2 separate regions of the Homo sapiens genome follow, and region 2 is linked to region 1. Evidence: fine-mapped expression QTL. A gene starts in region 1. The other region holds a variant in brackets. All regions are shown on one strand. Distances are from middle to middle.

Evidence for each region. PIP is the estimated chance that this variant, and not a neighbour inherited with it, causes the effect.
Region 2: its variant is fine-mapped to the expression of TRIM58 in subcutaneous fat (GTEx, PIP above 0.99).

Annotation. Positions count from the first base shown.
Region 1 is chr1:247,853,640-247,862,209 of GRCh38, reverse strand. It overlaps TRIM58 (tripartite motif containing 58), which reads right to left and starts at 5,023. Exons shown (of 6, transcript NM_015431.4): 1 at 4,544-5,023; 2 at 1,498-1,593. The coding sequence starts at 4,963. RefSeq lists a cis regulatory region at 6,546-7,110.
Region 2 is chr1:247,635,972-247,644,541 of GRCh38, reverse strand. LOC102724446 (a long non-coding RNA gene) reads left to right here and starts at 3,688. Exons shown (of 3, transcript NR_188589.1): 1 at 3,688-3,831. RefSeq lists a silencer at 4,679-4,877. The variant G/A (reference allele first, on the strand shown) is at 4,547.

The DNA of each region.
Region 1 (8,570 bases):
TAACTTTTATCCTTTCCTATCACTATCTACATCATTTACCTATAATGTACATTTTTCTTTTCTTTTTTCCTTTTTTTGTCTGAGACAGAGTTTCACTCTTGTTGCCCAGGCTGGAGTGCAATGGCACGATCTCAGCTCACCACAACCTCTGCCTCCTAGGTTCAAGCAATTCTCCTGCCTCAGCCTCCCGAGTAGCTGGGATTATAGGCATGTGCCACCACGCCTGGCTAATTTTTTTTTGTATTTTTAGTAGAGACGGGGTTTCTCCGTGTTGGTCAGGCTGGTCTCGAACTCCTGACCTCAGGTGATCCACCTGCTTCGGCTTCCCAAAGTGCTGAGATTACAGGTGTGAGCCACCACGCCTGGCCTTAATGTACATGTTTCTTCTGGGATAAGTGTTATCTTTTCCTATCCGTATATATCTATATTGTAATCTAGTAATGTAGTAAATAAAGAAAAATATAGTTTAAAAAGTCTTTATGTAATATCTGTATAAAGACAGAGTATAAGACTAAATTTTCAAAGAAAACAAGAAGGAAATAATTATAAATATATAGAGTGATCAGAAAAGAAGGGTTATTTGGAAAAGGAGAAAGAATAGGAATATTCTGCAAAGTATAACCTATTATATATCATATTATATAATACATTATATGAATATATAGAACTATACACACAGTTTCTATACGTAGTTTCTCAATCTTGACACTACTGACATCTTGAACAGATCATTTTTTCCTCACAAGATATGGGAACTGTCCTGTGGACTACAGGGTGTTAAGCTGCATTCCTGCCTCTACTAGATGACAGGTGCACTGCACCCACCCCTCCTCAGTTGTGACATCCAAAAATATCATCTCCAGAAATTGCAAAATGTTATCTTGGGGGGCAGGTATCGCCTCAGGTTGAGAATCACTGTGTGTGTGTGTGTATGTGAATCACTGTGTGTGTATGAATCACTGTGTGTGTGTGTACACGTGTGCACGCACATGTGCATGAATGAAACATGGAATAAAAAGAGCTAGTGAGGTATAAAAAAATGGAATATGTGTATGTATAGATGATAGAAAAAAAAGGCTAAACGTTCAGATTATTACCCTGTATATAAGATGATCACCTTGGGCTACACTTCTTCTGTTACAAAGTTGTGAAATATTCATTATTTCATTCACCTAACAAATATTTTCAAACTGGTAGCAACAGTATAAGATGCTATTCTAGGTGACAGGGATACAGCAGTGGGTTTTACAGGAAGATCAAACTAGCAAAGCTATTTAATTATAATTTGGATTGGGTGATGGCAGTAGAGACAAAAAGAACAAAAATGAACCATATCATTTGAGGGGACGGGATGACCCAGGATGGCTCTGAGGTGCTCTTGGGCATATATGGAGATGGAACAAAAGTGCTGGAGAATGGAAGATGGTAGAAGAATTACTGACCCGAATCTGGATCCTTCAAACAGGCAAGCCTCCTAAAGCCCCAACATGGTCTTACCTTCCAAATGACAGTCTTTTTCCCCACGTTGGCCTCCTGAGTCAAGGCGTCCTCCAACTCTTTCCTCATAAGTTCCAGAGCCATCTGGAGCTTTACCTGTTTGGGAACATTTCAGCTGTTACAGATGCCCTCAATCTGTACCTAACGTCACACAGATGTGTGAGGAAATACAAAAGTCAACTTAAACAGTCCCTAGAAAGCACATAAAAATGTTCAATATCATTAAAAACTAAACATAAATGTACTTAAGTTTTAGTGTCAGGGTCTCGCTCTGTCACTCAGGTTGTGCAGTGTTGCGATCATGGCTCACTGCAGCCTCAAACTCCTGGGATCAAATGATCCTCCCACCTCAGCCTCCCAAGCAGCTAGGACTCCAGGCACACATCATTACATTCAGCTAATTTTGTTTTCTGTAGAGATGGGGTCTTACTATATTGCCCAGGCTGGTGTCAAACTGCTGGCCTCCAGAGAGTCTCCCATCTTGGCCTTCCAAAGTGCTGGGATTATAGGCATGAGCCACTGGGCCTAGCTCCTTAAATGTATTTTAATACCAGATACAATCAAATATTTATCTAAAAGTATGCTCACTGCATTGTTATATACGATAGCATAACTAAACTAAAACATTAAAGATAGGGGAGAAAAAAATTATATTAACTGGATAGAATTAAAATAAGATGTTACAGAATGTTTAATGACTAGAAATACAATGATAATGTCCAATGAATAAAAATATTTTACAAAACAACATGAATTTTGAAAAAAAATGTGCTGGTAATGAATATATTAAAACTGGGCTGATGTAAATGAGAATGATATTAGATAAAATGTCATCTATTGGTGTTTGGATGAAGAGTGATGCTATTATATCTCTATATTTCATATATTTCTCTATATAACTATATTTATACATTTCTCTATATTTATATATTTCTCTATATAACTGTATTCTGTATTTCTCTATATAACTTCAACTTCTTGAAGTTATTGGTTACTTTATGATAAAGCATGGGTTTATTATTGTAGTATTAGTAGTATTATTAGGTCAGAAGGAACTTGGTAGGTTATCATATTTTATATGAAAAAACACAGTATGTTGTAAACCTTGCAATGAGTAAAAATACAATGAGAACTAAATCTTCCTTCAATGATAGGGCGCTCACTAGAGGTAAATATGTGTATTTTAAATACTCACAAAGATACATACATAAACAGGATTTTAATTAAAAAATTATATTCCCAAAGTTACTCAATAAATCCTACATACACATCAATTGTTTTTAAAAGGAGAATATTATAATTGTTATATATAAAATAACAGTAGAATTCATGATACCATTTGACTCAGTGGGGAAAGTGGCATGTGTTTTGGTGTTTACAAAGAACGGAGCACTTTGACACTTGTAGATAAAGAAAAGCTCCCTCAGGCCAAAGAAACTGTCAGCAAAAGCAAGGAGATGTAGCACAGTTAGGAAAACAGTGATTCGGCTAAATTTGCTGGGTTTCCTGGCTGGTTAAGACAAGAGAGCTATGGAAACATAACTTAGGGCCCTAGAAAGCTTTCACTGAGAGGCTCAGGAGTTTAGATAATATTTATTTGGTATTTAACCGAAGAACTACTGAAAATATGGAGAACACCTTTAGAAATATTACACTAGAGGCTGGGCTGCCTGTAACACCAGCACTTTGGGAGGCCACGGCGGATGGATCACAAGGTCAGGAGTTCAAGACCAGCCTGGCCAACACAGTGAAACCCCGTCTCTACTAAAAATACAAAAATTAGCCGGGTGTGGTGACGCATACCTGTAATCCCAGCTACCCGGGAGGCTGAGGCAGGAGAATTGCTTGCACCAGGACCCGGGAGACGGAGGTTGCAATGAGCCGAGATTGCGCCACTGCCCTCCAGCCTGAGCTACAGAACTAGACTCCGTCTCAAAAAAAAAAAAAAAAAAAAAAAAAAGTTACTACCAATCCTCTTTCTGGACTTTTTTTAAAAAGGCAAGAACATTCCAGAAAAGTTTAGCTAGAAATTACCTAGTACTAGTACCTACATCTCGCAAATGACAACGAAAATCAAGAAGAAATACCAAGAGAGATATTGGTAGAGAAGGAAGGGGAAAATATCCTAAACCTTAATTTAAAACAAACAAAATAAATAAATAAAAATTTTAAGAAAGTATTTGCAATGCACTACAGCGCGACTGACAGTCCTTTGGTTAAATCTGTCAGTAAAGACGACTTAGACCTCCTCTGTGCTGGCAGTTGTTCTACATGCTGGGATTCAAGTGTGTTCAGAAAACATCCAAGAACTTTTGAAGGGCACCAGTAGGAAGAAATCGACACACAATTTCACAGATGCCACTCTGGGGACCAAATACTCCCATTTTGTTTTTCTTCTTTCTCTTTGAAGCTTCCCGGGCTACACCCCAAATGAAGCACCTCTTCATTGAGGATGTTCGAATCCTAAGTCCCCAAATCCCTGCTGATGGAGAGCCACCCGCTCCTACTTCAGGAGGCACGTGCACCTGAGCTTTGGAGGGGTCGGAACCCGTACCCAGCTCGACACTCTTCTTAACAACGCCCAAACCCGAGGGTTGCTTTGCTGACAACACTCATTTAATGTAAACACTGTGCAAAAGCAAAGCATTGCACAAATGAGAATTATTATGGCAAGTTTACGATATAGACGTACAATTGTTACCAAGAATGAACTGGACCACACAGCCCTCCCGACCAGAGCCCAGCTGAGGGACCAGACTATCCGCATCGGGAGAAACCAGCCCAGCGCGAGTTCGACGACAGGAGAGTGCTTGGGGGAGGGGCGGACGGTGTAAAATAATGGGTGTGTGTCGCAAAGGGGGTTACCACAGCCAAGGCAAAGAGACCCACACTGAGTGAGCCGCGTGGGCGGGGGGGACGGCGCGCGGTGGGGGGAGCGGCCGTGGGAGCCGCTCAGGAGACGGGTGGCCTCGGCGGCTCCGCTCCGGACTGTCGCCCGCTTCCCGGTCACCGCAGCGCCCGCAGCCCCCGCCGGGGGGCGCCTCACCTGGTAGCTGCCGGCGGCCTCCTGCAGCGGCGCCGTGCGGTGCGTCCTGTGCTCGGGGCCGGCGTCGCACACCCAGCACAGCGCCGCCTCGTCCTCCTCGCAGAAGCGGCTCAGGTCCTCGCCGTGCCGCGCGCATCGCCGCGCCCCGGGCCCCGCGCCCAACCCCAGCCGCCGCACGCTCTCCACCAGGCCCGCCAGCTGCCGGTTGGGGCGAAAGCCCGAGGGCCGGAAGGGGCCCCGGCACTGCGGACAGGCGTAGACGCCGCCCTGCGCGCCGTCCGACTTCTCGCAGAACTCGGAGATGCACCTGAGGCAGAAGCTGTGGCCGCAGTCCACGCTGACCGGCTCCTGCAGGAAATCCAGGCACACCGGGCACCGCGCATCCTCGCGCAGCCGCTCCCCGGGCGGCGCCCAGGCCATGACCCGCCTCCCGGAGGGCTGCGCTCCCGGCCGCCCGCACCGTCTCCCCTCGCGGTCTGCACAGGGGGAGGAGCCCACGCCCCAGGAAAGCAGGCGCCGACGGGTGGTGTCCGCTGGCTTCAGTTCAAGAGCTCAGACGAGCCACACCCGGTGAAAAGCCACCACTCAGGCGCTCCCTATGTCGGGGATAAAATTAACGTTGTGGTTCCCCGCCCCCGTCACACACACACCCAGGAAACTGGGCATTTCTAACTGGAATCCCTCCTCATATGCTATTTTCACTGGCAGTAGATCTGGAGAATTGCTAAATTCCCTCCTTCCTTCCATCTTTGTTTGTTTGTTTTTGTTTTTGTTTTTTTGAGAGGGAGTCTCGCTCTGTCGCCCAGGCTGGAGTGCGGTGGCGCGATCTCGGCTCACTGCAGCCTCCGCCTCCCGGGTTCAAGCGATTCTCCTGCCTCAGCCTCGCAAGCAGCAGGGATTACAGGCGCCCGCCACCATGCCCGGCTAATTTTTGTATTTTTAGTAGAGACGGGGTTTCACCATTTTGGTCAGCCTGGTCTTGAACTCGTGACCTCAGGTGATCTGCCCGCCTCGACCTCCCAGAGTGCTGGGATTACAGGCGCGAGCCACCGCGCCCAGCCTCCATCATCATTATATAGATTTAGTGCAGATTTCTGGGGTACCAGTGCAGTTTTGTTACATGGAGACACTGCATAAAGTCTAGGCTTTAGCGCAGGCATCGCTGTGATAGCGTAAATTGTTCTCATTAGGTGATCTCTCATCCCTCGCCCGCCTTCCACCCTCCGAGCCCCTTCCATTGTTACTGAGCTACTCCATGGTCCTCTCATGCCATAATCGTTTCTTAAAAGGCTTTCCCCCTTTATATGGCATAATCAATTTTTAAATGTTTTTTTCAAACTTCATTTTTTTCTCTTGCACTAATTACCTCTTGATAAAGAAATGAGACACCGCCTGACACGGGAAGATGCCTGCATAGGTGTGTGTAACTATAGGTTTACAGCCCAGCCAAAAATAATTCTAAATATTTAAATAAATATCTGGCCTAGTTCAATGAGGATCCTACAAGGAATACACACATGTTGTAGGATTGTTGCAAAGCCAGTCTTGGAGATGACAAAGCTATAGAGATACTCATCAGAGGAATAATTCAAGCTTAGCCTCTCAGTGGTGTACCTGTCAGATGGGGGAGGCTGAGACAGGAGCAAAATGATTTGACAGAGTATGTTACTTCATCCAGTGGAAGGCTGAATCAGGATAAAGTACATTAAAGTCTCTAATGTCGTCCAGAAAGTCGACAAGTCTGAGGCAGTGTCTGCATCTGTGCAAAATAACTTTAGTATGGTCGAGTTTGAAGTGATGGTGGGGTGTACCTGTGGCAAATCAATCTGTCCCTGAGCACACATTGTGTCTGTTTGTAGCCAGGAGTCTCAGACATTGCACCGGGTACTGAAAATACACATGTTAAGGAAAAGAGGTGGGACCCCATTTCTCCAGGAGCCTTAAGATCAACTAGAAGAGGTGGATATGAAATCATGCAAACATATAATTACAAACCAATAACTGCAAGGAAGGTCGCTCACCAGTCCTGCAGGAATATAACAGAGGACTCTGAATGAGGCTGCAGGGTCGGGGGCAGACACCTGAGGTCTCTGAGCAAACCTCTGATAGGTGAACACAAGCTGGCCAGCGGGAAGGGGGGCTCCGCAAGGCCGTGCCCCCAGAAGCCATGAAAGGTACAAGGTAAACTTCAGCAGGTGGGAGCAAGACATACCCAGATGACAGTGAGAAGCCAGGCAGGCTGGCAAGCTGGGCCAGAATATGGTGGCAGCAGATAAGGCTGCAGCAAGAGGCGGGGCCAGATGACTCAGGTCCTTGGGGATCCTCTGGGGTTTGTGGGTCTTCATTATAAGGACAAACTCTTGGGCTGGATCTCTGGCGACAGGCAGAGCAGAGGATCTTGAGGCCTAAAGGTTAAGTGCGCAATTAAAGCGAATAGATTCTTGGAGAACACACATGGATCTGTATTAGCAAAACACGAAAGATGTGGCATTAGAGAAAAAAGCTAAAGAGCAGAAGGCTTAGCAAAGAAAAACAGACTCTGGCTCCGGACTAAGGGCTGTGGCACTTGCTGAGAAGCTTGAGGCAAGCTGTGCCGCGTTTCTGCCCTGCATTTCTTCTGACGTGCAGTGAAGAGGTGTTAGTGTCATTCATATAAGGCCTTTCAGAGTATTAAACGAGCTAATAGATAGTAGACACTTAATATAGGTCCTGGCATGTTGGAAATACACACACACACACACACACACACACACACACACGTATATATATTGAGACAGGGTCTTGCTCTGCTGCCCAGGCTATAGTGTAGTGCCACAACCTGACTCACTGTAGCCTCTACCTTTCAGGCTCAAGTGATCTTCTCACCTCAGCCTCCCAAGTACCTGCGACTACAGGTGCCCGCCACCACGCCCAGCTAATTTTTGTATTTTTTGTAGAGACAGAGTTTCGCCCTGTTGCCCAGGCTGGTCTCAAACTCCTGGGTTCAAACAATCTCCCCACCTTGGCCTCCCAAAGTGCTGGGATTACAAGTGTGAGCCACCTCGCCCGGCCATGTAGCAAATATATTTAATTGAAGAAAAGGAAATGAAATAGTGAAGTGAATGGAAGGATGGTGAGTCAAAAGGTAAGCTACATTAGGAAGAGAGATTTTTTTCTATTTTGTTCACTGCTCTATCTATCCCCAGGACCTTGAAGAGTAACTGGCACAAATGGACACTCCACACATACTAACTGATTAAACAAGTTAATAAGTAAATGAACAGAATTAGGACAGTTTATCATAGGAGCTAATGAAAGAGGGAAGTTCAAAGATGATTATATTATGTCAAATGTCAAATCCATGTTTTTCTGCATTTTACATATATGATCTTGCCCTGGCTCTCCATAACTCTGGCAGATGCTGGAGCATTTTTCTATTTTGCAGGCATAACGAGACACAGTAAAACAATCCATTTACTCAAATATATGGGCCAGTTGATAACTAGGCTCACTTAAATTCAGATTTCCTAGTGCCTGTGATCCTAAGGAAAGGCCCCTGGCTTCTGACGTTGGGGGTCACTGTGGTTTTCAGTAGGGTGTGACGGAGTGGGCGAGCTCACTTCTTCCCCTGCTGGTCCTAGAGTTGCTGAGCTTAAACTGTTTTGTCTCTGACACTGGTTGACTAGGAATGACATCGGTACCATTGTTCTTAGAAACACACATTTCCCTTACAGCACGTCCATGCAGGTAAGTTGTGGACTGGATTATATCCAGATGTCATTGTATTTACAAATGCTATGTGGAGTGCCTCGCCAGGCAGTTTCTGGTTTAATGGGAATACTCTAACTTAAATTTGTATTTTCTCATGAGCTTTCTTTTGGCGTAAATAAAGCACCTCTTGGTTTATGCCAATACGACCAAATTCTAATGCACCCCACTCCTTAATTTATAGGCTAACTCCACCCTGTGACTCATTTACAGGTTGCAGAGTTGCAAATCTTTTAGCTAATACCACCTGCAACCATCCTCCTTCTCTAATATTCCTCTT
Region 2 (8,570 bases), 220 kb after region 1:
TTCTCCATTTCCAATCATACTAACTCTCAACATCTCCTGGCTTTATAACAATCTCCCATCTGGCCTCCTGGCTTTCTCTACATCATCTTCATTCTAGCTTCACTTCTGAATCACACATCTGAGCATGCTGCTACAGTTCTTTTTTTTTTTTTTTTTTTTGAGACGGAGTCTTGCTCTATCGCCAGGCTGGAGTGCAGTGGCGCAATCTCGGCTCACTGCAACCTCCATTTCCTGGGTTCAAGCAATTCTCCTGCCTCAGCCTCCCAAGTAGCTGGGATTACAGGTGTCTGCTACCACGCCCAGCTAATTTTTGTATTTTTAGTAGAGACAGGGTTTCACCATGTTGGCCAGGATTGTCTTGATCTCCTGACCTCATGATCCACCTGCCTTGGCCTCCCAAAGTGCTGGGATTACAGGCATAAGCCACCGCTCCTGGCCAGTTCTCATTTTCATGTACATATTCCCACTAAATTTTAAAGCAAGCCTCTTAGAACTAGTTGATGCCTTGCACCGGTGCTTCACAAACATGTATAAGAAGATTCATATGAGGACTGTTGCTCACAACAAAAATTTACAAACGACCCAAATTATGTGACATAATCAAGTGGAATAATAGGCAGCAAGGAAAAACAAATTAAACTGTACACACAGTTGGATATTAATAACATACTACTGAGTGAAATAAGCTAGCTCCAAGTTGCTCTATACAGAATAATAAGCTTCTTATGAAGTTCATAAATGACTAAAAGTAAATAGAATATTGTTTAGGTGCTATATTTAGGCTACACATACATGTGAACATATATACACAAACAACACATATACATACATACATAAATGTATAAATACATGCACACTGACGAAACTATGAAAACTACAAAAAAGGCAACAGAACAATCAGCACAAAGAGGTAAGAGAGACAGGCATACAGGCTGCAGAGAAAATGTACAGAGGTAAATACGGACAATGTTGTTATTCTCTGGTTGGGTGATATCATCATATATGACCATGCTATTGTTTAGCTAATTATTAAAAGAAAGCCATGCATGAGCTAAGAATTATATGTCCAATTCAGTATAGCTAAGGTATAGTGAAAGGAAGGGAGGCAGGAAGAGGGTGAGAAAAGAACTGTGTAATGCAGGAAGAAGTTTCCACGTTTAAAAGAGGACTTGAGGCCGGGCATGGTGGTTCATGCCTGTAATCCCAGCACTTTGGGAGGCCGAGGCAGGTGGATGACCTGTGGTCAGGAGTTCAAGACCAGCCTGGCCAACGTGGTGAAATCCCATCTCTACTAAAAATACAAAATTAGCCAGGCGTGCTGGCAGGCGCCTGTAATCCCAGGTACTCGGGAGGCTGAGGCAGGAGAATCGCTTGAACCCTGAAGGCAGAGGTTGCAGTGAGCCGAGATCACGCCATTGCACTCCAGCCTGAGCAACAAGAGCGAAACTCCGTCTCAAAAAAAAAGAAAAAAGAAAAAACAAACAAACAAAAAAAGAGGACTTGAAAAAGACCTAGAGCAAAACCATGTTAATGGAAACCAGCTATGTGGGTCTGACAGTCAATGCTTTTGGTAAACTGTAATCTGTGGCCTATCTACAGGGAAGTGATTCTCCAAAAGAGCATTCAAGCAGCACAGATCACCCCAGCAGTGCTATCTGCTCCCTCCTCCTGAGCTTGCCAAGATTTGGGGGTTTTGCTTAGGCTTCCCCATTCCTCGATCCTAAAGCACTCCAAGCAAATAATGTTGGTACTGTTTATCCCTACATGCAATGTGCCATATGAAATCTTGAGAAAGTTGCCCATGTCAGTCTATTTTGTTTTTTAAAAAGGATGATTATAAAATAAAGTGAACATCTGAATCTCTGGCCAAGTGAACCTCAGCCTCCCTTATAAACCTCAATATGCTCATCTTCATTTACTACGAAGCAATAACTCTTCAAATTCTTAAGCAAATAATACAATATTCATTGCAATCTGGATCTCCCTACATGTCTTTCATTGATCAACTGTCAAGGACGTTAAGGAGATTCTCAAGACTCCTCAAAAGTTGGGGGCGTGTGTGTAAGGGGAGAGATTTGTGACCAATTAAAATGCAGGAAAGTTAAATAACATTTCCAACTTCCTGGTTTGAGGCACAAACACATTTGGTGTTGAAGGAAAAGGATCAGGAAGAAACAAAACTATAATTTATAGCTTAAGTATGGTCATGGGACAGGAAATAATGTGTGGCACTTACAAATTCCATGTCCAAGCCAGGAAAAGCAAAACAGAAACAAGGACCAAGAGGGTGGTAGTTAACCTAGAAAGACTGAGGACTAAGGAAGTCCCTACTGCTGACCGAGCCCATACCAAGCAAAACCAGCAAGTGACAAGCAGCTCTCAACCCCTTTGGCTTCCTGCCTACCCTGAGATATTCTTCCCAATAATTCAAATCTAAAAGGTTTTGAGCAGCATGGGAATTAAAAAAGAAAAGAAAAACCCACCTCTGTGAAAGAGTGGCTTATATACAGGTGATCGTTTTGGATGGCACACCTTAGCATTACTAAGTTAATGCATCAGAAAGGTCGCAAACCCATCCTCTGTAAATCGGGACAGAACTGTGCCCTCTACTTGTTTTCTGCCCGAGCTTCATTCTTGACTTCTGAAGTTAATTTTAATGGTTTAAGCCCTTCCTCTCTGTTTCCAAGAGTTTTGTTTAACTTTCTTTTATCCCCCACTCACACCCTGACAGATTATGGTATGAAATAACAAAAAGTCCATCGACTTTGAAATCAGATAGACCTGGGTTTAAATCAGATAGACCTGATGCTTCATCTCTGAATCTTATCTGTAAGCTTCTGCAAAATGGACTAGTAATAACTACTCCTGAAGTTCTTCTGAGTGTTAAATGAGATAATGTATGGAAACATATCATGTCTGTTGTAGTAGATATGCTACAGTGACACAGCACACCTACTCCAGGACAAATCATTCATGCCTCGGATAGTATCTGGAACAGTTAGCTACTTAACTGCAATCATCTTCTCAATACATTTACCAAAATACAGAAAAGTGCCATGCATCAGTTACTTGTGAAAATTCTATCTCCAGTCCCGATCTCTCTCCCTTGAGTTAGAGCCCTGGATTTGTGGCTACTTCGTGAATATTACTATCTACTAGTGACTTTAGAATTGGCTAGAATTCATTTTATGCCATTGCTATTAGAAATAGGAAAGCAGACCTCAACACATGAATTCATTTGGCCTTTGTTATATATACATAGACAGGATAGGAAGTAGGACTTAGGTCACCCACCTCTCTATTTCCTGTATTTCTCTAAGTGCTTCTTGATGTCTCTCCACCAGCTGGACCACATAGAAAAGCAAATTTATCACCACACTTCCTCCAAAATTAGCTCCCCCTCTGGACTTATTTCTGTTAATTGAACCTTAATTTTCCTGGTCTGATTCAGGACTTGCAATGTCCTTGGCAAGATTTTCTGCCTTCTTCTACACCCACCCACCAGTCCCTGCATCCATTTGTTACCAAACTACCATAATTTCGTCTTTCACAAAGTCTCCTGTCTATCCTTTCCTTTTAGTTTCACCTTGACAGCACACTCTAGAACCTCATTACCTCACACCAGGACAAAGGGGTCCTACCTAGACGCCCTTCCACCTGCCCATCTAATCCCAAACACTCTGTGCACACTGCCACTTTCACCATCCCATATCCACGCTTCGCAGAGACACCTGCAAAAACACTTGCAATGCAAGACTCAGCCACAACTGAGCCTCAGAGTGTGACATCTAGGGGACACCTTGACAAAGAACCACAGGAGAAACCAAAGAGGTGGGTAAAGAACCAGGAGAGAAGACTCCAGAGAAAGGTCAAGACCCGGGGGCAGGCACCAAAAAAAGAGATGAGAACGGCAAACTTTGCCCTTTCGCAGCCCAAAGTCCTCCAAGTAAATGTCAGAAGCCAGCAAATGCCTTGGGGAGCTGATACGGAGCCCTGACTCATCTCTGGAGGAGCAGAAGAGGTTAATCAGAAATCTGTGCAAGTAGAACAAGGGGTCGGAAGACTGATCTAGCTACACGGGAGGCCAAGGTGACGCGGAGGGACTCACTCACAGATGCTGAGGGCTCAGCAGGGTCCGCACGGGGTCTAAGGAACGCAGCACCGAAGCCATTCTGCGTTGCTCAAGCACTCCGCGGACACGCGCTCGGCTCTCACATCCTGGAGATGTTCGTTATCCCGGGAAGATGTTTATCAGAAGAGAATTTCAAACAGAATAAGTAACTTTTTAGTAAATGTCCTCAATTAAACTCCCGCCTTAAGGCAACTGTTGAATTTTCCCCAATGCTGGAGGATACATGTGATGACATGAAATGTTCCTATTTTCCAAAGTTTTCATCTACCAAGTCGTTCATGTACGGTTTAGCACCGTTAATATAAGTTCACTCCTCAAAGTAATAGGTTCTGTGACAGAAGATTCTTGGTCCTAAATTTCTGATTCAAAAATGGGAAAAAATTCCAAGATATAAAAGCTGTTCACCAGTATTCC[G/A]GTTAAATGTATAACATCATAGAACAATATGAGTGATCATTGAGTCACCTTTCCCAGATGTCTCACAGAAAACCTCCTCTGACTATAATGCCCATGGAAAATCATCTTAATTCCAGAAAGCGGGGGCTGACGGGACACTGTTGAGAGGGTGAGTCACGGAAAATCACGAATGGTGGCAGGCGCCCCGCCTCAGTTCCCCTCGGGAGAGGGCACCCGCCAGTGCGGACCGCCAAGGGGCGTCCAGGACAAGGGCGGTTGGGCTCCGCGGCCCCAGCGTCCGCCCAGCGCGCCCTCCCGCGCGGCCTCGTCCCAGCCTGGCCCAGGTTCCGAGTCCCCAGTCGCGGGCGTCGTGAGGCTCGAGCGAACCCCCAACAACCGCGCCTCGCCAGGGCCACCCCGCCGCTCTGCGAGGTTCCCGGCGGCCCAAGGGCGGGATCCTCAGGACGCAGGCGCGCGCCTCTGCCGCAGCCGGGGGAGGAGCGCGGCGGCAGCAGCGACCAGTAACCGTTAGTGGAGCAGCCCCGCCCCCACGGCCGCCAGGCCCGCTCCTCCCACTCCGCCTCCTGAGCTGGAAGCTGAGAGAACCCAGGGCCCGGGCTCCAACTTCCAAGCCTGTCGCAGAGCCTGGCAAGCTCCCTTCGGGGAAGACTAGACCGACGTGCCTTAACTATTAAGTTGAAAAAGCGAAGTAGTATAAAAAGGAGATAGAGTAATAAGTGCCAAAATACACTCTGATGCACTCGTCCCTTTTTCGTCTGTCTTCCAACTATTGTCATTTTTCCAGTCAGTTAATTTCTCCTCTGCTTTTCCTTCATTTTCCTGAGTTGTTCTTCGCTCTCTGCCTCTGCTTTTCCTTCATTTTCCTGAGTTGTTCTTCGCTCTCTGCCCCTCTCCCTCCTCCACTTTTCCCCTATGGCAGTGAATCAACTGTGTGACCCCAGCTGTCACAACTGCTGCTGAGAGGGTGTGGATAAGTCACAGCTCCCAGCTCACTTTCTCACCTGTACAGCTGGACTGACCACACCCTCCTCCCGGGGTTATTGTGGGGTGGAGCAAGTCACCGATCTGGGAGGTGCTCATTTATTCTTATCATAAAATGGGGATCCCCCGCTATGGGCTGGGCACTGGTATCAGGACCCAGGAGCACAGTTCCTGGGCTCAGGCATCGCATAACCTCATGGGAACAGCAACCAGAGAAGAATTTCATGAGGATGAGCTCCATGCACTATCCTCACTCCAGGCCTCTTCCTTTTCCTTCGCTTTTACTTTGCATCTTAATGCTCAAGGCTAATGCCAGAAAAAAAGGTGAAGTACGCAAAGGGTGTCTAGAGCATCTCAAACTTCTTTATCTCAACTTTACCTCCCTCTCGTGATGGGCTCTGCTCTTTTCTCCACCCCATCCCCAATTCTGTGAAGTTCAGCAAATGCTAACTGCACAGTCCTTGTGCAGGCACTCTACCAGGTGCTGAGAAATCAAATAGCATAATTTCAATATAAAAGTGAGAGTACTGAAATCAAGGGAACATATCTAAGTCATCTGTTGCTGCCAAATGCCCAGATACTGTTTTCCATCAACAGAACTTTCCTGGGCCTCCACCATGGCTTTATGCCCCAGCAGGACAGAGCTGCCCTCCTGGTTGATTTTACATTTCTAATGAAATCTTTTTTTTTTCTTTTCTGTCCCCATTGTTTATATTCCCAAGCACACTGCAGAGCTCAGTTCCCAGCCAGATCAAGCTGCCACGTGACCTTGTTGGTTCTTCTTCCCGCCTGGGCTCTGCTCCAGTTCCTCAACATCCTTCCTGCTCATGGGGAAGGTCTCACCCCAAAGTGGCCCTGGGATTCCGTCTTGCATATTTTCATATGTGTGTGTGTGTGTGTGTGTGTGTGTGTGTGTGTTTGCAAACTAAACTGATTCACTCCCACCTCTTTAGACCTCCTTTAGAAAGGAGAACGCAGACTGGGTGGCTGTGAGCAGCACTTACCATTCTCCATGGCCTTGGTAGGGCCCCTTGAGCCCTGCTTGCTTCTTCACACAGAAAGGAAACTAAAGAGCTTTCTTGGCAATCAGTAACTCTCCCAAGCATATTTGTGTTTTCACACAGGATTTTAATTTCTACCACTGTAGGAGGCACTAGGTTCATGTTCTGGAAAAGTTAGTCCCCATGCTGCCTCTGAAATTGTATCCACAAAGACAGTTGTTCATTTTAAGTGGCAATTAGGATGGTGAGGAATTCAAAACCATGCCTAACAATAAGAACAGTAATAATAATAACCCCAGCCATTAATTGAGCTTTTAGTAGGAATCAAACATTCTTATTTAATCTCAGTGCTTTATAAACACTATCTTATTGAATCTTCACTGACATCCTATGAGACATTTTTATTCCTGTTTCACAGGGGTCTGTTGGGTGCACAGGAATCATGTCTTTCAAAGAGCACCAAGTGCAGAGGCCATGGCAAGGCCCCTGGACTCAAGTGGAAAGAAGAGGAGCAAACGTGTTCCCAAGCCCATGTTGAGACATCACCATTCCAAGGACACCCAGAAATAGCTGAGGAGGAATTTAAGGAGACAAGAGAAACATGGGATTAAGATCTTGTCAAGCAAGTGAAGATTTGGAGACATGGAGCTATGCATGTGAATATGCCTGGACATTCATGAACTTATTTACACTCATGAACTCCTGAAACCTAGGAGAGGTTGAAAAATTGCAAATCTACTTGCTCCTTCTCCGCACCCAGGCTCTACTTCTAAGTTATTGCCAACTGCTCATGGCTGAAAGCCCACATCCACTTCCGTCCTTCATCAGCCACATCAGGCTGTTAGTTTTCTTGGCCCTCCAACTGCCCACCTACTCTTCCCTGCCTGGGTTGGTTTTCAGACACTTGGACTTCACTGATCTGCTGTTCTTCTGAACAATGGACTCTGCTCTCCCATCTGAATTTTTGATACTCCCATTGTGTTATCATCAAAAATATATATTTGGGCCAGATGCAGTGGCTCACACCTGTAATTGTAACAGTTTGGGAAGCTGATGCTGGAGGAACCCTTGATGCCAGGAATTTAAGACCAGGCTGGACAACAAAGGGAGACCCCATCTCTACAAAAAATGAAAAAAAAAATTACCCGGGTATGAGTGCATGCACCTTAGTCCCAGCTACTTGGGAGGCTGAAGCAGGAGGATCGCTTGAGCTCTGACATGACCCTGTCTCAAAAGTTAGGGTCAAAATGTTTATCTATTTGGTCTTTGCCCTTGATTCCTGGCAAAAAGGCACCTGAAATTCTTGGAATTTCCTGAGTGATAGGAGTTTCTTCCATTATTCATAAACAGCCCCTTTTGATCTTACCTGAGTTAATGCTAAGAGGTGACTCTAGATGGCCCTTACATAGCTTCTAGATGGGTGCTGGTGGCCAGGGCAACCGACCACATGAATAGAGGGCTGAACTCTCAGCCCTACCCCCTGATCTGCAGGGAGGGGACAAGGGCTGGAGATTGAGTCCAATCACCACCAATTGCCATCAATCATGCCTATGTAATGAAACTTCAGTAAAACTCCTGAAACAGCGAGGCTGAGCTTCCAGGATGGTGAATACATTGAGGTGCTAGTGCCCCCAGAGAAGACAGGGAACCTCCATCCCCACCCCACCCCTTACCCTGTACATCTCTTCCATTTGGCTGCTCTTAAACTGTATCCTTTAAGATAAACTGTGACTGTAAGTAAAGCGCTTTCCTGAGGAATGAGCCATTCTAGAAAATTCTCAAACCTGGGGACAGGAGTGATGGAGTCATAGTTTGAAACAAACTACCAACCCTCACATTTTTAGTGAGCTAGGCAGAAGTGTAAATAGCCTGAGGACCCCATTTCTGGCCTGCATATGAAGTGGAGGTGGTCTTGGGGAACTGAGCCCTTAACCCCTGGGGTCAGCGCTAACTCCGGCTAGTGTCAGAACTGGACAGAATTGTTGGACACTGAGCTGGAATAAGAGAATTAGGGTACTGGTTATTGTTGGAATAATAACACC